Regions from separate parts of the Homo sapiens genome. Here regions 1 and 3 are each linked to region 2. Evidence: fine-mapped expression QTL. A gene starts in region 2. Each other region holds a variant in brackets. All regions are shown on one strand. Distances are between the middles of the regions. Region 1 overlaps SHROOM2 (shroom family member 2). Region 2 holds the start of SHROOM2 (shroom family member 2). Region 3 overlaps SHROOM2 (shroom family member 2).

Region 1 (8,530 bases), 30 kb after region 2:
GACCAGTGTGATGTCTTAGGGAAGCGAAAAGCAATCAAGGTCTCTCTGAACAAGATTATGACACAAAGCTGGAGAGGTGATATACCACTGAGGTAGGACAGTAAAGGTATATTGCTGCTGAAGACAAATTGCTTCTGGTGGGCCTTGTGGACAGGAATGGAGAAAAAGGCATTTGCCAAGTCAATGGCCGCATACCAGGTACCAGGAGATGTGTTAGTTTGCTCAAGCAGTGAAACCACATCTGGTACAGCAGCTGCAACTGAAATCACCACTTGGTGAAGCTTACGATAATCCAGTGTCATTCTCCAAGATCCATCTGTCTTCTGCACGGGCTAAATGGGAGAGTTGAACGGGGATGTGGTGGGAATCACCACCCGTGTGTCTTTCAAGTCCTTGATGGTGACATTAATTTCTGCAATCCTTCTGGGGATGTGACATTGTTTTTGATTTACTCTTTTTCTAGGTAGAGGCAGCTCTAATGGCTTCCACTGGGCCTTTCCCACCATAGTAGCCCTCGCCCTACCAGTCAGGGAGCCAATGTGGGGGTTCTGCCAGCTGCTGAGTATGTCTATGCCAATTATGCATTCTGGCACTGGGGAAATGACCACAGGATGAGTCTGGGGACCCACTGTAAGTCGGACCTGAGCTAAAACTCCATTAATTACCATACCTCCATAAGCCCCTACTTCAACTGGAGGACCACAGTGACGTTTTGGCTCCCTTGGAATCAACGTCAGCTCAGAGCCAGTGTCCAGTAGTCCCCAAAATGTCTGATCATTTCCCTTTCCCCAATGCACAGTTACCCTGGCTAAAGTCCAGAGGTCTCATTGGGGAAGGATGGGAGAAAGAGTCACCACATAAATTGTTCGTAATGTAGTGGGGTCCTTCCTCAAGGGGACCTGGCCTCCTCTTCATTCAAGGGATTCTGGGTCTGTAAACTGGCTCAAGTCTGGAAATTGATTGAGGGGCTGTGATTCTCTGTTTTTATAATTCAAATTAGTCTTTTGTCCATTCGACCCAGAAGTTTTCTGCTTATATAAATTCAGTAGGAAGGCAGTAGGCTTCCTATCGATTTCCCTTCTAGGAACACCATGATTAATTAGCCAGTGCCAGAGCTGTACACGAGTCAGACTATTCTGATTGCCGCTTTGCCTCTGCTGTCCATTATGGTAGCTACGCACACCTTGCCTTTGACGGTTGAGTGTCATCACTTGGCTCCTGCCACCTCGGGATCCAATTATTCCCATCATATTTAAATTTTGTAGTTGCGTGACTGCAGTTCCCACCATTAGATCTGACATACAGGGAAGAACAATTACAGGGCTCTTCAAAGATGCAGGTGCTGCCCTCACGAATCTATTTTGCAAGGCATTGGTTAAGGGTATGTCTTCTGGACCCTCCCAGCTGGGATGAGTAGGTCTAAAGTGGCTAATCCACTCCACCATCCCAATCTCCCTAAGCCTTTGGATCCCTTCCTCTACATTAAACCAAGGGAGATCAGGCATTTCCAGCTCACTCCCAGTGGGCCATCTTTTAATCCATAGTTCAGCTAACCAAGCAAATAAACTCTTAGAACCTTTTTTTAACTCCCCAGCTGCAACATTAAAAGCAGAGTCCCTACTTAGTGGGCCCAAATCAATAAATTCAGCCTGATCCAACTCTGTGTTCTTTCCACCATTATCCCATACCCTTAATATCTATTCCCATGCCTGTTCTCCAAGATTTCTGTTTATATCAATTATAGAACTCAAATGGTTCTTTTCGAGTGTAGCGCACCTCCTCATGGGTCACATTCTCAACCTCACCTCTAGGGGCCTGCTGGGACTTTAGTGATAGGTCTAGAAGCAAACAGGGGTGTCGGGGGTGGCTCCTGAGAAGAATCAACATATTTTGCCTGGCAATTGCCTCAGGGGAGGCCATCACTGTTGCCTCAGGCAGCACAGGGTTTATCTCCTCAGACAAAGGTGGAAAGGCTGATGGCAGCCATGGGTCAGGGAAGGGATGTTGCCATTACAGGGGATGGGGAAGCTGTTCCTTCTGGCAAAAAAGGTTCATCGGAGTTTACAAACTCAGTGTCCCCAGCTTCATCAGGGTTCTCCCTCACCGTCCCCATTCCAAGTTGCAGGGTCCTATTCTTTTCGAATCAATGCCCTCACTTTAACAGTAGACACCTGGCGAGGCTGTGCATGCATCTTTCATTGAAGGTCAGCCCCTCGCATGATAAGAGCATGTGTCTGTTTTTCCACAATTTCAGCTCTTTCTCTACAGGAGATAAGACTCTCACTCAGGGCAATCTTAGCAGATTTGAGGCTCAGTATCTGCTTTTGAAGCCGGGAGACAGAATCCCCAAGTTCATCATTTTCTTTCATCACTTTGCCCACTGAACTTAGGAGCAACCAACCAACTTCATTATATTCCTTGGTTTTCCACATATGGTCAAAGGTATTATGTATAGAGTCACTAAACTCCTTGCCTCTCATGAGCAGTGAATCAGGAGTGTCAAATGCATTTATTTTGCATAACTCTCTAAATGGTTTATGCCAAGGACTATCAGTGTTCTCCATACTATGAGAAGTGGAGTCCTTAGCATTTTGGAGTCTAATCATATTAAGCAGGCAACTCCAGAAACCTCAACCCACAAAAGAACTTCATCCTTAATATTCTGTTCCTCTAGAACCACTCTTTGTACCAAAATCTGTATTAGGGTTCTCTAGAGTGACAGAACTAATAGGATAGATATACATATTATGTGTGTGTGTGTGTGTGTGTGTGTGTGTGTGTGTGTGTGTGTGTGTATATAATATCTCCTATATATCTCATATGTATATATCATATATAGAGATCCATTATATATATATATCCTATATCTATCCTATATCTATATCCTATATCTATATCTATATCTATATCTATATCTATAAAGGGGAGTTTATTAAGTATTACATCCCACAATCACAAGGTCCCACAGTAGGCCATCTGCAAGCTGAGGAGCAAGGAGAGCTGGTCCGAGTCCCAAAACTGAAGAACTTGGAGTCTGATGTTCGAGGGCAGAAGCATCCAGCATGGGAGAAAGATGTAGGCTGGGAGGCTAGACCAGTCTCTCCTTTTCACGTCTTTCTGTCTGCTTAATATTTGCTGACAGCTGATTAGATTGTGCCCACCAGATTAAGGGTGGATCTGCCTTCCCCAGCCCACTGACTCAAATGTAATCTCTTTTGGCAACACCCTCACAGACACACCCAGGATCAGTAGTTTGTATCCTTCGATCCAGTCAAGTTGACACTCAGTATTAACCATCACAGTTACTATGTACGGATTTGCCTATTCTGGACATTTCATGTCAGTGGGATCGTAGAATATGTGGTCATTTGTGTCTGGTTTATCTCAGTATAATGTTTGGAGATTCATCCATGTTGTAGTGTGTATCAGTCATTCCTTTTCATGTCTGAATGCTATTGTCCTATGGGAATGGACTGCGTTTTGTTCATATCCTTTGATGGACATGTGGGTGGTTCTCCTTTGTGATTCTTGTAAATAATGCTGCTGTGTGGACAAGTTTTCAATTCTCCTGAGTATTTTCCTTGTGTTTCAAGCTTTTTAACCTCAGTGCCCCAGGCATAGCGCTTGTGATTTCCTGAGCACATGGGTGG[C/A]GCATCCCTGATGAATCAAAAGAATAGGATTGGTCATTTTGGCTTCACGGCTGTTGAAGCAAAATTAAAACTCACAATTTCAAAGGTCATAGGATTTTTGTCCTGACCCCGGTGGGTGTGGGCCCCTGCAGGGCTCCGACAGAGGTGGTCAGCATGTCTGCTGAGCCTTCAGGAAGACATGCCTGGTCACCGGCATCCTTGTGGTCCTTGTGGTGGCAGTTTGTGGTTAGCTCAGCCTTACCCCCTGCTGCTGCTGCTGCTGCTGCTGCTGCTGCTACTTTCTGAGCAGGAGCATGGGAGTCTTTCACCCTCCCTGCGAAGTGGACATGGGGTTGATTCTGGGGTTCAGACAGCGAGCGGGGTCCCTGTAGCCCAAGGGTGATAGTGCTCGGGACGGTGTCCCCCCTTAGACATGAGCTGCTCTCTTGTCATTTCCCACTCCTTCACTTCCCAGCAACAACACAGCTTCAGACCAAAATCAAAACCTTCACCTCTTCATCATTTCTGGTTATATTTCAGAAACCCGTGCTATAGGGGGATCCCTCAACAAACTTAAATTTTCCAGATTTAGGGGACATTGGCAGTATCTTCATCATAACATTGTAGGGTTTGTAAGGTTTTCTGTTGAATATTTTTCTTTTTCTTTTTTTTAAGAGACGTTGTCCTGCTCTGTTGCCCAAGCTGGAGTGCAGTGGTGTGACCTTGCCTCACTGCAGCCTTCAATTCCTGGGCTCAAGTGATCCTCCTACCTCAGCCTCCTGAGTAGGTGGGACTACAGGCACCCGTCACCCATGCCCAGCTAATTTCTGTATTTTTTGTAGAGACAGGATTTCACGATGTTGGCCAGGCTGGTCTCAAACCCCTGACCTCAAGTGATCCACCCACCTCGGCCTCCCAAAGTGCTGAGATTATAGGTGTGAGCCACCACACCCAACCTCCCTCTAACTTTTTTTTTTTTTTTCAGTATGTCTAAACATTTTGGAATTGTAATTTAAATCATAAGGGCAAAAGCTGAAAATTAATGCTTAGGTTTACTAGTAAGTGCACCCTTCCCTGTTTCCCCCAAATAAAATCAGTTTATTTTTTAATTGTACCCCAAAGCAAGTTCTCTCAGTACGAAGCAACTACTGCGTACACACAAAATGGTTGTTAATGTAATAACTTCCCTGGCTCACCCAACGTGCAGTGCACACGACTTCAAAGACTACAATTTAGGGCAAGTATACATGAAATGAGAAAACAACTCTCTAAGTTTCAAAACCTGCTGTTAAATTATTTCTAGGACACTCAGGTCATATTTACTTCTCAGTAGGATGTTGCACTGTCATTTGGTTATCAGTCTACCTCGCAGTGTACATTACCAGATGCCAATTGGAGGGACTAGAGATAAAACTTATGTAGTACTATTTCTTAATGGGCTGAATAAGGTAATTACAAATAAGTTTGCCTTACATCCTGTTGAAGACCTCTTTACAGCCTCAGTACCTAACAATATCTAGCAGCCTCCAAGAATGCTCATCAGGTGAAACGATGATGTAACATTTGAAAATGGAGCCAGATACTTCAGCTTAAGTCATTCAGAGCCAAATATCTGAAGAATGGCCAAAATCAAATCTTTATTTTTATAACTGTATAAATGTGATCCAAATGTGTCCACCACCAGTTTTTCAAAAAGAAACATGCTATAAATAAGCAAACTACATCTGCTCACTGATGTGTGTATGGACTCCCTGGATGTCTCATTGAGCTTAATTACAGACCACTCACAGTAATGGATTTTTAGTGTATAGTGTAGCTTGATGTTAAGCCATTTTAGCTTTTGCGCATACATGTTGTGCTGGCTGGTAACGGAGAAGAATTTGCAGCATTACAATGTTAAGCTAGGTTGTATCCATCCCATTAAATGGCATCAATATCAATGTCATCATCCTTGTTGTTGGACTTTACAGTTTCAACTTTAGGTACACTGGCAGTCTTCTAATACACCACCTCAATGTTCTCATCTTCATCTTCTTCACCACCAGAAGATTCTTCCTCTGCCTCCATTTTATAAATGGTTCTACTTTGACACGAATCTCTTTGGCAGGTTCTTTTGAGACATGTTTCTTAAAGGCCTTTTTCCGACCAGCTGATGACGACCTCTTCTTCTAAAAAATCTACATCATACATCTCCTTCAAGATATTTGGAATCTTAGAGATAAGCTGAGCTTGGTGCATTGCTACCCCACACGTAAAGCCATGAAGAAGGTACCATTGAGCTTTTTTGTTGTTGTGACAAAATCATAAGAAATGGTGCCTGTATTTCTTATGTGTTCTCTAATCTCCTCTTTAAAAAGAACTTCAGTCAGAACAAGAGGGCCCATGGCTTTAACATCCAGTCCTTCTGCTTCAGTAACAATTTCTTTGTCACATAAATCAATGATACCCTCTTCTTTCTTTTTCTTCACAAAATCAAACAGGATGTTGGCCCGCTCCTCAACTGTTTTTTCCAAATCATCATGGAGTATCAGAACTTTTGCATGATCACTGATTTCATCCATTCTGCACCTTTGAGCTTCCTCAGTTGTATCTTCCCCCCAGTCATCCTCCTCTTCTTCCACTGTATGTGGAGGAGGGCTAATTTCTTTGGTGGTGGTGTCTCACTGCTGGATACGGAGCCATTTTCCTTGTCTTTGCCCTTTATATTTTTCTTTTCCTTTTCTTTCTTTCCTGTACCACTGTCACTATTCTCAGGTGGGTTTTTGAGAATGAATGTGCAGAGTTTATGATGTGTGTCAAGCATGCCTCGATAGCCACAGGCTTTATAAGAATTACCTATTGTTTGCTGCTTTGGCTTGACATGCATATCTGTTTCAGGATTCTCACATTCAGGACAGAGAACAAATTTTTTAATGAGTCCATCCAATATGTCTTGCAGCTTATTGGCCTCCTGAGATCCATTCACAATGTAACAATGTATCCCACCAAAATACTTGGTGGGATACCTTGGAGGCCAATTAAGCGCCTTTGCAGTGTCAGTCATGTTGACTATAACTGTCTTGATTCCATTTCCTTTGCCCTCAACCTTGGCAATCAGACAGGGCATCTTGTAATAGAACTGGTCTGATATGCTGGGGTTGACGTTGACAGACATTTTGGCTTATTGGTGGCTTTATCAATAAGATGAAGAGATCTTTGATTGCAGCTTTTTTATATCTTCTGTCTGGAGAAGAAGGGATGACATAAACAACTGCAAAAGTTCTCGGTCTCTAATGTGAAAACATTTTCACCACTGAGGCTGTAAGCGTCTTGCTTGTATGCTATGTTTCCCCAATACAGGTACTAATGGCTGCGCAAAAGCTCTTCTGGTGAAGGCCTCCCTGCTCTCCCACGCTTGAAAAGCGCTGTCCTTCATGCTTCCCTGTCACCTTGCTCCTAGCAGGCATCACGTCGAGTCCACCCTGCCAGTTTATCTTTTTTTTTTTTTTTTTTTCTTGAGAGGGAGTCTCGCTCTGTTGCCCAGGCTGGATTGCAGTGGCGTGATCTTGGCTCACTGCAACTTCCGCCACCTGGGTTCAAGCGATTCTCCTGCCTCAGCCTCCTGAGTAGCTGGGACTACAGGCACCTGCCACCACACCCAGCTAATTTTTTTAATTTTTATTTTTAGTAGAGATGGGGTTTCACTATGTTGTCCAGGCTGGTCTTGAACTCCTGACCTCAAGTGATCTGCCTGCCTAGGCCTCCCAAAGTGTTGGGATTACAGGCATGAGCCACCGTGCCTGGCTCCCTCCACCTTTAAAATTTTTTTTTTTTTTCAGATTATGTTTTTCGAGCCTCAAGATTTATTTTATTGCAGTATTTTTTTTTTTTTTGTAAATATGAAGAGTTGTCCAGTAGAGTCTCATCATATGTCGACTGAAGCTGGCACCATCCTATGGCCCACAGAGGCTTCTGTAACTGGGTCTTCAACATGTGGCCCTCCCTCCATCCTTTCCCACCCTCTTTGCTCCAGCCACAGCCAGCTTCCAGCTTCTAGAAGCAGCCTGCATTCCTCCCCCACCCTTTTTTAAATAGAGTCTTGCTCTGTCACCCAGGCTGGAGTGCAGTGGTACAATCATAGCTCACTGCAGTCTTGAATTCCCGGGCTTAAGCAATCCTCCCACCTCAGCCCTCCCAAGTAGCTGGGACTACAGGTGCACCACCGTGCCCTGCTAATTAAAAAGGTTTTTTTTAGAGATGAGTTCTCACCATGTTGCCCAGGCTGGTCTCAAACTCCTGGGCTCAAGTGATCCTCCTGCCTTGGTCTCCCAAATTGCTAGGATTACTGGTGTGTGCCACTGTACCTGGCCTTCCTTTTTCTTTTGAAAAAATCCTTAGGTTTTAATAAAATTCCACGTCCTCCATTCTCTGAAATCTGTATGAAGTACCAGAAGTCTCAATTTGACAATAGACATGGTCAGGATATTTCTAATGTTTGGATGATCCTCTGCAAACTAGAGGCCAGCAGACTTCTGTAAAGGGCCAGAGAGTAAATATTTTTGGCTCTGTGGGCCAAATTACTCCTCTGTGCTGTATAGCATGAACGCTGCTGTAGACAGTATGTAAATGAAAGGATTGTGTGCCAATAAATCTTTATTTACAAAAGCAGGCATTGAGCAGTAATTGGCATCCTGGCTGGGGCTTGCTGTCCTTGGTAAGCAGTGGTTTTCAAAGTATGGTTCCCAGACCAGCAGCATCAGTATCCCCTGGGAACTTGGTAGGGATGAAAATTCTTGGACCCCACTCTAGACCTACCGAACCCCAAACCAGAAGTTAGGAATCATCTGGGTGATGCTAATGCTGGCTCCACACAGCAGAGCAGTTCTCTGTACAACTGCTCTACAGAGATGTGGCCTGTCTGC
Region 2 (8,530 bases):
ATTTTTAAAATGCCACACTAAAAGGTTTTCTGGAAGGCTTGACCCTACGGAGCCACTATTTGAAATGTGAAAGTAAAATTTTGGAACTCCATCTTCTACCACATTTTGTAATGAGTATAAATCTCTTTTCTTTTTAGAACAAAAAGCTAAAATAATTTGAGCTGTATTTCATAAAGAAGATTAGCTATTAATGAAGTCTCTGAACGTTGGTTAATTTGCCTTACATTAATTAATTCATTCACTGTTGACGAAGTGAAAGCAGAACCATCCTCAGTTTCATCTATCTCTTCTCTCATAGGAAATAAACCTCAGATTAGCAAAAGTGGCCGGGGACTGGGTGCGGTGGCTCACGCCTGATCCCAGCACTTTGGGAGGCCGAGGCGGGTGGATCACCTGAAGTCAAGAGTTTGAGACCAGCCTGACCAACATGGTGAAATCCCATCTCTACTAAAAATACAAAAATTAGCTGGACAAGGTGGCGCATGCCTGTAATCCCAGCTACTTGGGAGGCTGAGGCAGGAGAATCACTTGAACCTGGGAGGCAGAGATTGCAGTGAGCCAAGATCTCACCATTGCACTTCAGCCTGGGCGACAAGAGCAAAACTCCGTCTCCAAAAAAAAAAAAGAAAAAAAGAAAAAGAAACAGTGGCCAGGTACAATGGCTCATGCCTGTAATCCCAGCACTTTGGGAGGCTGAGGTGGGTGGATCACTTGAGCCCAGGAGTTTGAGACCAGCCTGGACAACTTAGTGAGATCCTGTTTCTACAAAAAATAAAAAATTAGGCAGGCATGGTGGCATATGCCTATAGTCCCAGCTACTTAGGAGGCTGAGGTGGGAGGATCACCTAAGCCTGGGGCAGTCAAGCTTCAGTGAGCCATAATCGTGCCACTGCACTCCAGCCTGGGTGACACAGTGAGACTCTGTCTCAAAAAAAAAAGAGAAAAAAAAAGAAAAGAAAAGAAAAGAAAAAGAAAAAGTGAAACAAACACCTAAGGCTACTGAATCCCCGGGGCAGGCGCTCATAGGGTCACACTCCTTGCAGGTCCAGAAGAGAGTATATGCTCACCCTATTCTCTGAGCAATGAACAACCACAGTGAGAAATTACACAGAACAAACATGCCCCTCAGCTTTCCAAAAGGACAAAAGACTAACATGGACAAATGGATTCTGCTTCTGAAAATTCCACCTGAGTTGTGAGTTCTCAGAAAAGAAAGCCATCTACTAGGAGTCCATACACTGGTTCAACGTCATACTAAAACTCTCCCAATGGGGGTGCAAGACTGATCAACTGGGGTGATGCCTTTCAGCCACAAGATATATTTTCACAAGATTATTGACAGTGTCTTGTGATGACAAAACAAACACAATATAGAAGTGCTGTCATCGCACCTAGACCATAGTAACCCCAAGAATATCACAAAAGGATTTATGACTGAGCAGGCACCTGTCTCATAGCAGGCCACACAAATCTTGGTTCAGTCCCTTACAGCATAACATCATTATAGACAGCAGCCTTATAAATATTCCAACCATCCTGAGATGGATGCTTAATGTGAAGATTAAAAAAACAAAACACCCCAGCTAAACACTGTTTAGTAAGGATGGATGTAAATTTCTAGCTAAGTTTAAGAACAAGGGAGTCCTTTTAAAAAGTATAAACCTTTCAAGTGGCAGATGGGTAATCTGACAATGATTACGTACGGTGAACATAAAATGTTAAAGATGACTTTGGGGCTATATAGAATAATGCTGGATTTATGGAGACAATGAAATCACTGTCTCTGCTTTATAATGAGTCTAGTGGTCTGAATTTTAGCCCCAGGTAAGAGCTTAGACTGAAGTCTATACCAGCTTGGGGTGGGGAGGTAGGGAGTGGGCTGTTTTGGGAGACGGACATGTCTGCAAACTCTAATAAGCACACTGGGTATATTTATACAGCTCTTTATCTTTTGGTTTATCATATCCATCCATTTCTTAAACTTTGTGAGATAACTGGATTTACATGTAGTTGTAATGTGTCCAGAGTTGGTTCCTTCCGGTGGGTTCTTGGTCTTGCTGACTTCAAGAATGAAGCTGCAGACCTTTGCTGTGAGTGTTACAGCTCTTAAAGGTGGCACAGACTCAAAGAGTGCGCAGCAGCAAGATTTACTGTGAAGAGCGAAAGAACAAAGCTTCCACAGCATGGAAGGGGACTGGACCGGGTTGCCACTGCTAGCTGCAGTGGCCAGCTTTTATTCCCTTATTTGACCCCACCCACATCCCGCTGATTGGTCCATTTACAGAGTGCTAATTGGTCCATTTTACAAACCTCTAGCTAGCCACAGAGCGCTGATTGGTGCATTTTACAATCCTCTTGTAAGACAGAAAAATTCTCGGAGTCCCCACCCAACTGGCTTCGCCTCTTGGTAAGGAATAATACAGGGAAGTCCTGTGCACCCTTCACTCTTCACCTGCCTGTTCCAATGGCAACACGTTACAAAACTACAGCACAATGTCACAACCTGGAATATGGACATTGATACAATCCACCAAGCCTTTTCAGATTTCCCGTTTCACGTGCATTTAGTTCTGTGCAATTTAGCTTAATCAACTTGGCAGCTCCTGTGACCATCACCACAGTGAAGATACACTCGACTTGATTCTGAGAGGCACATTCCTTAAGCCTTCGTTTAATCTTTGAAAAAGAAAAAATCGCCTCATTCTTCTAACTAAAGGCATTCAGAGACTGTAGTTAGAAGTTAATTATGGGGCAGTCACCACGTGCCCAGCGCCATGACAGGTGCCCAGTGGAGCTGCGACTCTGAATTTAATCGGCTGCATGAGACACCTCCACAGAATGCACCCCTCTCACTTGACCTCTGAAGAAACAGACCAGAGCTGAGATTTCTTGTCCCAGCTTGACAGTGGCAGAACCCAGACCCGGGGACCCTTGACTCTCTGTCCAGTGCTCTCCCGGCCTGTCCTGGATGCGTACTCCAGCATCGTCACCTCTGAAAAGGGCCTGGATGGAGCTGCTTAGAGAAAAGAGGTGTTCACCAGCCTTCAGCTACGTATAGAAACAGCAACGAAAACAGCTTTTTTGCAAAGCATGTAAATACCTATCCATGCAGGTACTTTAGACCAGAGTTTCATGGAAACTGAAACCGAGCAGGAAGAGGTGGCACACATGTTGTCCGCAAACTTTCACCAATCCCAGACCTCCACCTCCCCTTTTCGGGGATGTAAACCTGGGAAACTTGAAGACCTTGTGGTCCAATCCTAGGCGAGTGGGGACAGCATCTAGACGCAACGGCTTTCTGCGCGGTGGCTGTGGGAGGCCTCTGCGGGAAGGTGGGAAGGCCCTCGTGGAAACGGGGCACGGTCCTTCTGCGCCCGCCTTCCAAGCCCCTCCAGAGGCCGGACCCGCGCCCGGCTCAGGCTGCTGGGGGGCGCCCTTCCCGGCTCTCTAAGTCCAGAGTGTGAGTGCGCGCAGGGCCGCGCGGGACGGGCGGTCCCTCTGCCCCGGGGCAGCGGCCACAGCGCGGGCACCAGGGCCTCCCGCGGCGCTTCCGCTCTCACCTGCGCGGCAGCCCGCGGTGCGCGAGAACAAAGTGTGGGCGCCGGCGGGCCGCGCGCCCCGAGACGGAGGAGGCCGGAGACTCCCGCCACGCCACCCCGCGCCCATCTCACCTGCCGCCTCACCTGCCCGGTCCTGGCCTCCAACCGGCGGGCGGGGGCGCCCAGAGCTTCGAAGCACTGCAGAGCTCTGGCGCGGGAGGAAAGGCCCGACCTGGCGCCGGGGCCTCCGCCCCCGTCCTCGCCCGCGCTGGCTCCGCCAGCCCCGGGGCGCGCGCTCCTCGACCCCGACCCCGAACCCGCTGAACGGCGCGCGCGCCTGAGCGCCCCTCCCGGCCCGCTCCCCTCCACCGGGCGAGAGAACCGGGGCGCGCCCCTCTCCAGCTCTCCCCGGTACGAGCGGCCGCGTGGGCCCCTGAGCGCGCACCTGACCCCGTCCCTCACCCTTCGGGCCGCGGGCTGGACCTCTGGACGCGCTCCCCGTGACCGGCCCCGCGGTACGAGCTCCCGAACGCGCCCGCCCCGCCCCCCGTCGGCCCCGCCCCCTCCCCGCCAGCCCCGGCCCCGGCCCCGGCCCCGGCCCCGCCCCCTCCCCGCCAGCCCTCCGGGCTCCCTCCGCCGCCGGGCCGGCACTTTCTTTCCAAGTTACGGCGCAAGTTCTGCGGCGCTCGGAGCCTCCCTTGCGATCCCACGGCCGGGACTGCCCGGAGTGCATGGGCGCGGGCCAGGGACGCTGAGCGGTCGCGCCATGGAGGGCGCCGAGCCCCGCGCGCGGCCCGAGCGCCTGGCCGAGGCCGAGACGCGGGCGGCGGACGGCGGGCGCCTGGTGGAGGTGCAGCTGAGCGGCGGCGCCCCGTGGGGCTTCACCCTGAAGGGCGGCCGCGAGCACGGCGAGCCGCTGGTCATCACCAAGGTAAGGCGGCCGCGGGGCGCGGGCGCTGACAGCCGGGAGCTGGCCGCCCTGCGGGGCGCGTCGAGGTAGGGGCGCGGGAGGGGCGGTAGGCTCGCGCCCCCGGGTCTGGCGCGCGCGTCTGCTGGGGTCACCTGCCGGGCCTGGGCGCCGGGACCGGCGTGGGCGTGTGATCCTGGCGGTTCCCCGCGCCTCGCAGAGTTTAAATGGCTCCTGCCCGGAGTCCCTTTCCCCTCCCCCTCCCTCCTCCGGGCAGGGGCCTGGCCGGGTCCTCTGGCGCTCCCGGGCCCGCCAGTGGCGGCCTGCACCTGCGGGGCTGCCTGGAGGCCAGCGAAGGAACGTGTCCCCGAGCCGTCCCCACCTATGTTTGCCTCTCTGGGGTCCCTGGTTCGGCACCCCTTGGACCCGTGCCTGTGATCACTACGAAATCCAGAGTAGCAGCTGTCGCCAGCGCAACTTCTCGATTCCCTTCAGCCCATCAATGTTTACTGACTTTCGGCTTCCAGTCCCAGATCCACTGCGCACTGGATACCTGCGCAAACTTAGAGAAACCTGAAAGCCTGCTTCCTAAGAGCAGGACCCGAGTTCTAATAATAATAAAGAAATTCCAGATGTATCTCATCAGGAATGTTGTGTGTGTGTGTGTGGTTTGCTTTAGAACATTGAATTTTATTGTCTCAAAACAAAATCCATCTGGAAACTTACCAGTTGAACCTGTATGAACTTGTAAAAGCAAACACATAAACAACAGTCCAGTCACCCTGTGTTCTAGTTAAAAGTGTGTAGTGGTCATTTTCTCTGGGAAGGGTTGAGTCGGACCTTTCGTGTGGACGAAGTTCCTTTTAAAATGTAAAGATTCTTGGCGACTAGAAGCGTTTGAAGATAATTTACTGGTTTTCTCGGCTTTCCTGCCTCTCCACAGCAGGAAGAAATTAAGTGATTCCTAACCCGCCGCACTGGTAATCAGTTTGGGAAGTGGGATGGCTTTGTTGTTCAAATAGCAAATGAGACACCAGCGTCTTCCATTCTATATTTTCTGTCGCTTTTATGATTACAAAACTTTGTGGAGGGATTTGGAGAAGCCTTGTTTAGCTTTGCACTAAATTTTTGTTGAACTCAGGAAAGAGGTTGCCATTGTTATAAATTTGACCAATGTGTAATCTTTTATCACACTGGCTTCTTTGGAAACATGGTGGACAGTCATAAAGTGTGTATACTCTGCCCAGCCAGAACACTCCTCTTTTTTTTTTCTTTTATTTCTTTTCTTTTCTTTCTTTCTTTCTTCTTTTTTTTTTTTGAGACAGGGTCTTGTTCTGTCAGCCTCCTGAGTAGCTGGGACCACAGATGTGCGCCACCATGCCTGGTTAATTTTTTAAAATTTTTTGTAGAAACGGGGAGTTTCACCATTTTGCCCAGGCTGGTCTCGAACTCCTCTGCCTCCCAAAGTCCTGGCATTACAGGCATGAGCCACTGCGCTTGGCTCAGAATGTGGATTAATCCAAGCTTTGAATCTTCCTCTCCCAAAAGCTACTGAAAAGTCACTGGGGCTCATTAAAAAATAGCTCTTCTAATCGTTTTTTTTTTTCCACTTGTAATTAAATAGTTACATATTAGAGCCCTGGAATACTGTACAACTCACTTGCTATTTAGCAGACTCTGATTTGGGGATAGCTTGCATTAAGGTAAGAGCGCACCTTCTCTTTATGATAATGAGGGTATCATTTGAAAGCCTCATGGGAGTGCGTGTAGTAGAACTGGGAGGGGTGTCAAGAACAAGGCTGGTTCGGTCCTGGTCTTCAGATGGAATTTTATCAGCCCATTTTATAGATGAAACAGCTGTGGCCCAGGCAGGGCAAATGGTGTATCCTGAGGTCACAAACTGTTGAGTCCTGGGAAAGGCCCTAAGAATCAGACTCTGGCCCCAGTGTTCAAGCCTGCTGCTCCCCTTCAGTCAGTGCCATCTGCTTGGGTCTGGGATCTCCTGCAATGCCATATTGAATACCTTCGTCACATCGGTTAGGTGAGGGTTTGCCAGCCTTGGCATTGGGGACTTTGTGAGCTGAATCTCTTTGCTGTGGGGCTGCCCTGTGCTTTGGAGGATGCTCAGCAGCCTCCCCAGCCTCTACCTGCTTGATGCTACTGTCACCTCTCTCCAGGTGTGATGACAAAAATGTCTCCAGACATTGCCAAATGTCCTCTGGGGGCAAAATTAGCCTGGTTTTGAATCTCTTTTGTTAGATTAACCATATATCACCTTTGCTCTTAAAGGATTCTTGCTCTTAAAACTTCTGTTTCTTTTTGAATAGACTGGCCTTTAGGGTGGTGTGTTTAGAGGCCTCTGGCATTGCCAGTGTTTGCATGGAGAGCTGTTTTCCTCCCACGCGTTGGCCCTGAGAATAGGCTTTATTTACATAGTCAAACTCAAACAAATACTTGCTTCATCTGCATTTTTTGTAGCTGGAGAAAGGAAATTGAAGCAGGAACTCCCAAGTGCTGTGTTTTATGGGCATCCACAGTGGCTGTTCAGAATCAGGACTGACTACTCTCTGGGTCTAGTTTGAAGCTAAAGGGATACCAACTTCAGAGGAGTAGCATTCTTGGAATTTGGGGTGCATGCATGAAGCCCAGCAGAACCTCCGCTGACAGATGGCGACAGGATTCATCACTCCTCAGTACGTTTCTGCTGATTTCTGCCTTGAAATTTTGCTACAGTTGGTGGAAAAAATGCACTCAAACCCATATTTCCATGCTGTTGTTAGAGAGGGGGCAGGAATAACATCCATGCTGTAGGAATCTATGTAACGGAAGTAGAGATGGTGGATATATGTGATCCTGGTGGGTTTTTTGCATGTTTCTGTTCCCATCCATTCAACCAGTGGAAGTCTTCAGTGGGGGGAGGGGAGGGGACTGATTTCTAAAATGTCACTAGAGTGGCTTGAATTCCACAAAGCTGTTTGGGGGATTCATGAGGAAGCGTTAAATACACCAGCTGGGTGTCAGCAGCCCCCTGTGGCCTCAGGAATGTTTGTTAAGGGAGGGAAGGAATGAAGCCCCAGCCTCTCCTGTTCACTATTTCTTAGAGTCCGCTCCCTCCCCCAAAAAGAATGCCAGAAGCCTTAGCCCGAAGCTCCAAAGAAGACAGTAACTTGGGCCTGGCCTAGCCCCAAGGGCAGCTCCTTTGGGAACCCATTGATTTTCGGGTTGCCATTGGGCACCAGAGCTGTTGTGTGCGACAAGACTGCTGTGGTCTGGGACGCTTGGAGGTCCCCCCCACCTGACTCACCCACCCCAGGGCTTCAGACTCTGAGAACATTTCTCTGGATTGGAGACAGAGCTTTGAAATGTCCTTTCCAGTGTGAATGCCAAAGACGGAATCAGGGCATATTTTGGGGGGCGTGCAGCCAGGTGGCAAGTGTCTTATGTAAAGTGTTAGCTGAGTCCTTGATTGCAGAGGGCACAGGGCTGAGACTGGTGGTTGGTGATGGGCAGGAGTGGAGGCCCCGCGCCTCTGATGTACCTTACTTATTGGTTTGGAAAGGGGGCTCTGCATTATGGGCCATGCCAAGTCACCTCGTGACCCGAGGACCGGGGAGATCAGAGTGACCACCCTGGTCGGGATCAGTTCTTGTCTCATATGCCATTATATTGGCTCCCAAGAGCCAACCAAGCTCTTTGTGAAATATCAGTAAAGGTTTTGAAAAAGAGGGACCTGATGAATTCAGCAGTGGGTCAGGAGCGGGTGACTCTCAACTTTGTGGCTGCTGGTGGATTTTTGTGCCCAGATGCAGTGTGCGGTCAACATCTGCACGAGGGAGTGCTGCTGCTTCTCCAGGTGTCTGAGAACCAGTGGGTGAGGGCTTGGATCTCCCTTGCCTCTGCCATCTCTAAGTGATGTCCGAGTTGTAAAGCTTTACTCACTTTTTGATGCCAGCTACCATGTTTTCTTCAGCTATTAGGATAAGTGTCATTATAAAGATCCATCTGTATTTAAGAATTAATAGTAAGGTTAAAAACCAAGAGGTGAGCTTTCTTTCCTGTGCTGAAAGACCCTTTCAGTTGGTAG
Region 3 (8,530 bases), 130 kb after region 2:
AGCTATGATGGTGCCACTGCACTTCAGCCTGGGTGACAGTGAGACCCTCTCTCAAAAATAAATAAATAAATAAATAAATAAATAAAAACAAAAATAAAAAAACAGGATTCCTAGAGCACAGCCAGCATGCAGAACTTGTTTTCTAAGGCTTTTCTCCAATAAAAGGAACCAGGGCTCCTCAGAGGAATGACTGAGTCTAGGGTTGGGGCAGGGACTGTACAAGATGAGCCTGGAGTATCTTATAGTGCCAGAAAATAAGCGCTCAAATACACCCATATGTAAACCCAGCGGTGACAACAGTGTGGGTATGTCATAGGGACACAGGAACCAACAATGACCAAAGGCAGAACAAGTTAAGCAGCAAAATTAAGTAGTAGTGGATTATAATCCAATATATAAAATGAATCCACAGCCCAGACTGATACGCAGGATGGTTGAATAAATTAACAAATGAAGAATAGAGAAATCTGCTGTGCAGAAAATTGCAAATACTTTATGTAGCTACTGTGCCCTTAAGGAGGTGGAGCATAGCTCCCCCGCTCCCCGCTCAGTGTGGGCTGCCAACAGTAAGCTCCCTCCAAAGAGTACAGTGTGGCAAAGGGGACCGAGGAGAGGAACATCACAGTGGAGAAACTGGTGTATACCAACTTCACCAGGCGATCAGGGCCAACGTTGACAGGTAAGTCACATTGACAGCATGCCCCTTGATATCATAGGATAACAGTGGCACTTCACTTCCATGGTCTCTCTCCCAGAAGTCCCAGGCTAATCATAAAAACACATCAGACAGTTCCCAATTGAGAGACATGCTGCAAAATGCCGGAACAGACCTCTTCAAAACTATTAAGGTCATCAAAAACAAGGAAAGCCTGAGAAACTATCATAGCCTATTCAGGCTGCTATAATAAAACACCTAAGATTATATGATTTATAAACAGCAGAAATGTATTTGTCACAGTTCTGGAGGCTGGGAAGTCTAAGATCGAGGCACTGGCAGATTCGGTGTCTGGTGAAGGTGCTTTCTGGCTCACAAATGGCTGTCTCTCTGCTGCGTCCTCACATGATGGAAGGGGAGAGGGAGCTCTCAGGGGTCCCTTTTATGAGGGCACTAATCCCATTCGCAAGAGCTCCATCCTTATGACCTCATCACCTCCCAGAGGCCCCACCTCCTAACACCATCACCTGGGGGTTAGGTTTCAACATAGGAATTTGGGGGTGGGGGGCACAAGTGTTCAGTCTAAAGCTATAGCACCCTCACAGCAAGAGGAGTCTGAAGAAGCAGGCCTGAGTATGATGCAGTACCTGGATGAGGTTCAAAGACAGAAGGAGAACATTGATTAAACAGAAAATTTGAATAAAGTGTGACCTTTAGTTAATATTAATGTACCAATATTGATTCATTAACTATGACAAACACACCCCATAGTAAGTCAGATATTAATAATAGGGGGAAGTGGGTAGAGGGCATATGGGAGCTCTCGCCTGGCTGTTGCAATTTTTTAGTAAATCTAAACCCATTCTAAAATGAGATGCTGGCCAGGCGCAATGGGTCATGCTTGTAATCCAAGCACTTTGGGAGGTTGAGGCAGGAGGATTGCTTGAAGCCAGGAGTTTGAGACCAGCCTGGGCAACATAGCAAGACCCTGGCCAGGTGCAGTGGCTCACGCCTGTAATCCCAGCACTTTGGGAGGCTGAGGCGGGCGTATCACTTGAGGTCAGGAGTTCGAGACCAGCCTGACCAACATGGTGAAACCCCGTCTCTAATAAAAATACAAAAATTAGCTGGGCATGGTGGCGTGCACCTGTAATCTCAGCTACTCGGGAGGCTGAGGCAGGTGAATTGCTTGAACCCAGGAGGCGGAGGTTGCAGTGAGCTGAGATGGTGCCACTGCGCTTTTGCCTGGGTGACAGAGTGAGACTCCATCTCAAAAAAAAAAAAGTATAATGAAATATTTATTTTTTACAAATTTTTATGTAGAGACCAGGTCTTGCCATGTTGCCCAGGCTGGTCTCCAACTCCTGGGCTCAAGCAGTCCTCCCGCCTCGGCCTCCCAAAAGTGCTGGGGTTATAGGCGTGAACCACCACACCCAGCCCTATAATAAAATATTTAATCAGCCATCAGCTGATTGCTGTTCCGTGTGTGGCCTGGCAGTATGTGTTGAGCATTTGAGAAAAGGTGATGGCCCGGGGTGAATGGCACCCTCTCTTAGAGACAGTAACATGTACTTGGTAAAGTAATACGTGAAGATGAAAAGTACTGGAAAGAACACGGGCTTCGGAGTTGAAGACACAGGCTGGAATCCTCATTCTGCCTCTCAGTGTAAGTGTGTCAGGTCCCCCAAGCTTGCTGACCTCACGGCCCTGGATCATGGGGATATGCAGAGCAACCTTGCTCGCAGACTTATTTACATGCTTAAGGGATATAACATTAATGAATCAGCACAGTGCCTAAGGTTAAGTGTCGATATGGGGGAAAAAAATCTAAAATAGCAGTGATACAGTATAGGCTGCAAAGCAGCATATGTTATTTGGAGAAATGAGCAAGAGTTGGAAGTAATTGCTATGAATGTAGAAGAGGGTGACAGGAACAGGTTGGAAAGAGAAACTCCGTCCTGGTGGCTAAGCCCAGGATGTGGGAGGGTGGGATAGGGCTGTGAGGCGCAGTGGCTGGCGACGCTGCTTCCTGGAGGGGCTGTGGTGCTGAGGTCTGGGGCTGCGTTAGGAGGGAGGTGGGGCTCAGGGACTTTAAATAGAGATCATTGTGAAATGGTTAATTGGGAAAGTCAGGTCCAGCCTGCCTTTGTCTTCCCTGAGTGCCTTGCACACACTCAAAGTTCCGGAAACGCTTGTTAGTTGCTTGATGGGTTACATTCCTAATGAGTGTGTAATCAACCCAAGAATATATGGACATAGAATAGGCTGTTGAATGTTTTCTTTTTCCTCCTTATGGTTGTGGAGTTGAACTGTGTGTCACATATGTTATAGGATTATCTAGCATCACTTAATAGAGAAAGCTGTAACATCAGTGCAGTGGGCTTTCTATATTTCCCCGTTAAAATATAAGAAGTGCTGGGCACAGTGGCTCACACCTATAATCCCAGCACTTTGGGAGGCTGAGGCAGGAAGATCACTTGAGCCCAGGAGTTGGAGGCTACAGTGAGCCATGATCATACCACTGCACTCCAGCCTGGGAGACAGAGCAAGATCCTTTCTCCAAACACACACACACACACACACACACACACACACACACACACACACATAAAGGAAGACTGCCCCCCAAGCCTTTTGGGGTTTTAAATTACAAGACACACACACACACACACACACACACACACACACACACACACACACACACACATAAAGGAAGACTGCCCCCCAAGCCTTTTGGGGTTTTAAATTACAAGACTTTTGGGGTTTAAGCACTGAAGTGTTGGGAATGTTCCCCACTGAGGCAAGGAGTTGCTGATGAAGTGATGGGAAATGCAAGCGGAGCCTTGAGCCGTGGAGGTGAAGGTTGACGGAGCCTGCGTGAGCTTGCCCATCAACAAGACAGCAGGCACAGACAGGCCAGCTGTTGTGAGCTTGGCTTTAGGACTCCATTCAGTAGGCAGGAGGAGAGCTGCAGCAGAGGCGGGCTGTGGGTCCCTGAAGCACATCGCTGCCTTCACAGCTGGGCGAACTCCCATCCAGCACGGTAAGCAGAGCCGGGTAAGGGACCTCTGCGTTTGCTCTCGGGGCACTTCATCCCAGATGGGAC[C/T]GGTTTCAGGACGCCTGCGCCGTTTGTTAGGGGTTTGTAGTTCCCAGTGGCTCTTTTGTTCTGCTATCTTGAAGGGCAGGTTGCTTGTCAGCTCACAATGCTGTGGGTAAGGTCTGGTGAGGTCGGCGAATGTGTTCTCATTGTTTATTCTTCTGCCTGAAGATGAGAAATAATGCAAATCAGGGTGCAGATTCCGGCTCGAGCTCCACAGGCGTGCACGTATGTGTAAGGGCATGCTCGCCGGTGCTGCATGTCCTCGTGGATGCATGCAATTTTTACAGCTTTGGGATTCACGGTTAGCTGAAAGCACATTGGAACTGGAAGGCGGTGCTCTTAACACCGTGTTCTAGGCTGGAAGCCGTAGAGCCATCATCTGCTCTGATGGGACTGCAGCCCTTGGTATGTGGGACCCTTGCTCCATGTGAGTTCTGCAGATGGGTTCCCCGAGGGAGCTGGCTGGAGGACGCCAGCATCGCATGAAGACCTGCCTGCCTCGTTTGCCTTTTGTTTTTCAGTAGCAGTAAGAAACAGGCATTCTCACTACACAGGCATTGAATGCGGACATTGAGAAAAAATGGTGAGTCAGCTACATCCTCAAGAAAAAAAAGCGGCGAAATCAGGTGTGCATGTTTAGTCATGAGAAATGTTCCCTGAGTGCGTTTGCACATAGCCTGCTGATTGCAGTGAGATAATTTAAATAGAGAAAATGGAATCACCATGGTTCTTAGCATTTTCCAGTTCTTTTATTTTGCTCTTTGGTGTGATTGTGACAGTTTAAGGGTTTTACTATACATGTGCTTTTTCCCCCATTTTATGTTGTGATAAAAGAAAGAGATGATTAGTTTTGGCTATATTTCTAAATGGTTGGAATGCCTTTGCTTTACTAAAGGAGGCTTTTGTGTGTGCAGAGGGTCGATGGCATTTTCACAGGGAAATTGATGCATAAATATGTTTGCACACACAGGCTGTCTCTTTGGTCTGCATTTACTGACTCACAAGAGTAGGTGTCATTTTGAAATGCATGTTTTTAGCGGTTGTGCTAGTTGAAAGGTAAAAAGGCAAAGGAGTTTGAAGAAAGGTTTTTGGAAATCTACCTGGTAGCACTTACGAGTAAACAGCCTACTGCCTCGTAGATGGTCTTAAGATTTATAAGATGAATGGAAAATAATATTTTAATGTATCATATAAAAAAACTGAAGATTTGGTACCAAGTTGATGAATGGTTGGCATATTTCTTTTCATTACGGAATAGAACCTTTGAGGTCATACTCTACAAGTATTTCTTATTATTTTATTGCGGAAAAGCATTGCATGGGTGGTAGAGGCACATTTCTTTCTTTTGTCACACATAGTGGCAAAAACATTTTATACTTTGTCCCTTTCTGTTTCTCCGCCTCCACCTGCGCCCACCCCCCTGCCCCCCCGCCCCTCCCGCCCCGATCACCACCAACCCAAACCAACACCATACCTCTTAAGGAAAAAAATTGCAGGGGAATTCTCATCTACAGAGGCATGAACAACACACACAGAGTTTTTTACAGAGTGCTAGGAATAACCATACACGTTGGTGTCAAGCATATAGGCTGCGGAAGGCTCTATTGCCCAGCCAGAGGGACAAATGACCCTGGTGAATGCACGCTGACTGCTGCTTGTTTTGCATGGGCTGGCTGCTCTTCCAGAGTCCGCCTTTGGATTTTGGAGGTTGAGGAAGGAAGGGAATATTTTATGTGGCCTTTGGAATACATTTACTTTACACTACCTTTAATTTTTTACCTCTCATATGCATTAAATTTTTAAGAAGACCAGGGTAGGGGAGCAGTGGGAAGAAGCTGATGTCTTGTATCCACCCATCTTTCCCCTGTCCTCGGGCACTGATTTCCAGCTGGCTTTTCCTAGAGCAAGTAAGACAGTCGGGTCATTTCTGGAAGGCTTGTAGACATCCTTGGATGTCTGAAGAGGTCCTAGAGTTATTTACTTATTTACCTTTAAAACATATTTGCCGACACCTTATTTAAAATTCCTGAAAGTTCACAGTGCCTCTTCATATGTATACCTTGGGTCCTACTATGCGGTTACCATCTTGATTTTATAATAAAGCAAACTGGGGGCGGGGTGACTAGATTCTCACAACCAGTTAGTGAAGAGCCCTCGTGGGGCAGCATGGCTGATTTTCAGTCTGGTGGGCTCCTGCGGACTAATGGGTCGAGGTCCTCCAGGTAAGGCTGAATGTAGAACTGGCCCAAGAATTCCTAGTTATTCTCTTAGTAACTTTCACATCCCTTATCCAGTTTGCTGCCAGTGCAGTGAGAAGGAATTTCAGTTTGGACTTCTGGGAGTGAAGTACAGAAACCCGTTAATCAGGCAGAGACAGCATGTGTGCTCCTCAGCCTGCGTTGGTGTGGCTTGCGAAGCCACCTAAGCATTCTGACCCTCCATTTCTTCATCCATAAAACAAGGAACACAGATTAAATTATTTCTTATTTAAAAATTATTTATTTTTTATGTTTACCATTACCTTGATCTTGAAGTTTAAATTATTTCCCAGGTCCCTTCCAGCTGTAGTCATTTTTGGTTCTTAGGGAGAGAAGCCAGGGACTCAAATTTCCCTTCAGTCATATTTCCAGCTCTGTGGGGTGATTTGTGGCTGCACTGTTTTGCTCATTTGCCGTCATTATTTCCAGGAACAAAAGCATATGAATATATATGAGACACACGCACAGGGGTAATAGCTTCGATATCCATTTACAAATAAAATCAGCTCTGTCAGCAAACTCAATTTTCTGTCAACAGGGCTTTGTTGATGGGAATGCCCTTGACAGCTAAGCCTACTTCGGTCTTCTTGTGGTAATGCCTCATAAAGCCACTCACTGCCAAGGTGCTCTTGGGTATAACTTGCATGAAATTTGTTATAAAATTATTCCGTTAAAAAAATCTAGCTGGCGGACCCTTAAATGTACTTGGAGGCCATTAAGGGTGGAAAAGCTAGAAATTCTAGGAAAATTTTCAACATTTATACACGTGTGTGTGTATACACATATACATGCCCATACACATATGTGTACTACACACATTTTCTATAGTAATTATGCATATAAAGTTAATGTCATGTACAACAAATATCTGAAGTCTATTGGATAAACAATCCATTTCCGATTCTGGTTCAGCTGAGTTAGAAGATAGGCAGGCAATGATCTGAGATGGAAGGTTTCCACAGTTTGGGGTCACGTGCAATTGTGATAGAAGGAAGATTGAGATTTTCTCTTAATTTATGAAGCTGATATGCTATTCTAACTAGTTTTTAATATATCTTACCACAGGGCCACCCAAAATTCAAAATTACTCCTGATTTTGTAAGCTTCACATATGTTTTTGAGAATGAGGTTTTATACTAATCTGGGATTACAGCTTTCTAGGCTGTGATATACAGTTTTTATTAACATTTCCTATTTTAAAAATCAATTTTGCTAATTAAAACCTTTTTATTAAGAATATATAGAAGTTCTGGGAAGCAGAGTGAGGATATTAACAAATCACCCTCAATCCTATCACCCAGAGTCTCCGCTGTGGAACATGGAAGTATATCTGCTTTGAAGTCCTTGCAAATATGTTTTTACACATGCAATTATATTACACATACTGTATGTAAGCTGCCTTTTTCTGTAACTTGTATGTGTATGGTGCATGACATTCTAAAATCTAACAACCCTGTAGCCATACTGTGGACATTTAGGGCTGCTGTTGGTGTTTGACGTTGTAAATAATACTGCAGCAGATATCTGTAGTGAAATACTTGTGCTCTTCCATGTTGATTTCCTTCGGATAAAATTCTGGGCATGGAGTTGCTAGGCAGGCGCTAGAAAATATCACCACGTTGCCCTCCAAAAAGTGTATGCTTACTATTTACACTCTAGGGGCACCGATCGCCCAGGACAGTCCTACTTCTCCCAAAACTTTGTCAATATTAGACATTTTTAAAATTCTGTGGTTTGATAGGCAAAAAAGTTATTTCATTTTTAACTTGCATTTCTTCAGGGACTAGCAAAGTCAGACTTTTTTGGTGCACTGACTAGCCATTTGTGTTTTTTCTTTTGTACATTACTCTTCAGCGCGTGTTCATTTTCCTACTGAAGATGAGCCCTTTCTTGATTATTGTCATTTAGGTTGCAGATAACATCCCTACCGTGTGCTGTGTGCCTTCCAGATGTTAGTGGGTGGTTACAGTTCAACTTTTTTGACATACAAGTGTGTTGAATTTTAGCGTTGTCGCCCTTGCACCTGGAGCCTCTGTGTGGCCAGTTCTGCCTTTTGGTGGCTACTGGCTTCTGTTAGTTGTACATTGCCATTACTGGTCTCTTGTTACCATGTGTGCCGCAGAAGGTGTAGCCACCAGGAGCTCTGTCAGCATGAATTCCCTAGGAGGTGTAGACATCCATCTCGGAAGGCTGGTAGAAAAATTGTCTCTGTGGAAAAATTAAGAAGTGCCCAGCTTTCCGACAACCCTAACTCATCGTAGTTCCCATCTTTTGCTCTGGTTGACAGGAAACTCGTGGTCCTATTGGAAGCACAACCATAGGACCTCTGTACATTCTCGTGTCCGGTCTGCTCTTTGCATAAGGGTGCTTGCCCCTGCTTGTGCCCTTCTGCTTTTTGTTTACATTTGCTCTCACTGTGATGTTTTTATGTTCATTTTGATACTCAAGTTGTGTGTTTGTTCTCCTGCGTGAGACACTTCTAAACATTTCATCATTTAGGGTATACATAGATCAAAG

Evidence for each region.
Region 1: its variant is fine-mapped to the expression of SHROOM2 in left ventricle (GTEx, PIP 0.97). The same link has a PIP of 0.9 or more in visceral fat.
Region 3: its variant is fine-mapped to the expression of SHROOM2 in sun-exposed skin (GTEx, PIP above 0.99).

The regions. Positions count from the first base shown.
Region 1 is chrX:9,812,687-9,821,216 of GRCh38, forward strand. All of the region lies in intron 1 of SHROOM2 (shroom family member 2), which reads left to right. It also overlaps the pseudogene EIF5P1. Among named protein-coding and RNA genes, the nearest start is that of SHROOM2, 31 kb to the left of the region's middle. The variant C/A (reference allele first, on the strand shown) is at 3,651.
Region 2 is chrX:9,782,241-9,790,770 of GRCh38, forward strand. SHROOM2 (shroom family member 2) reads left to right here and starts at 4,189. Exons shown (of 10, transcript NM_001649.4): 1 at 4,189-4,470. The coding sequence starts at 4,306.
Region 3 is chrX:9,908,890-9,917,419 of GRCh38, forward strand. The region is part of intron 5 of SHROOM2 (shroom family member 2); the gene reads left to right. Among named protein-coding and RNA genes, the nearest start is that of CLDN34, 54 kb to the right of the region's middle. The variant C/T (reference allele first, on the strand shown) is at 3,762.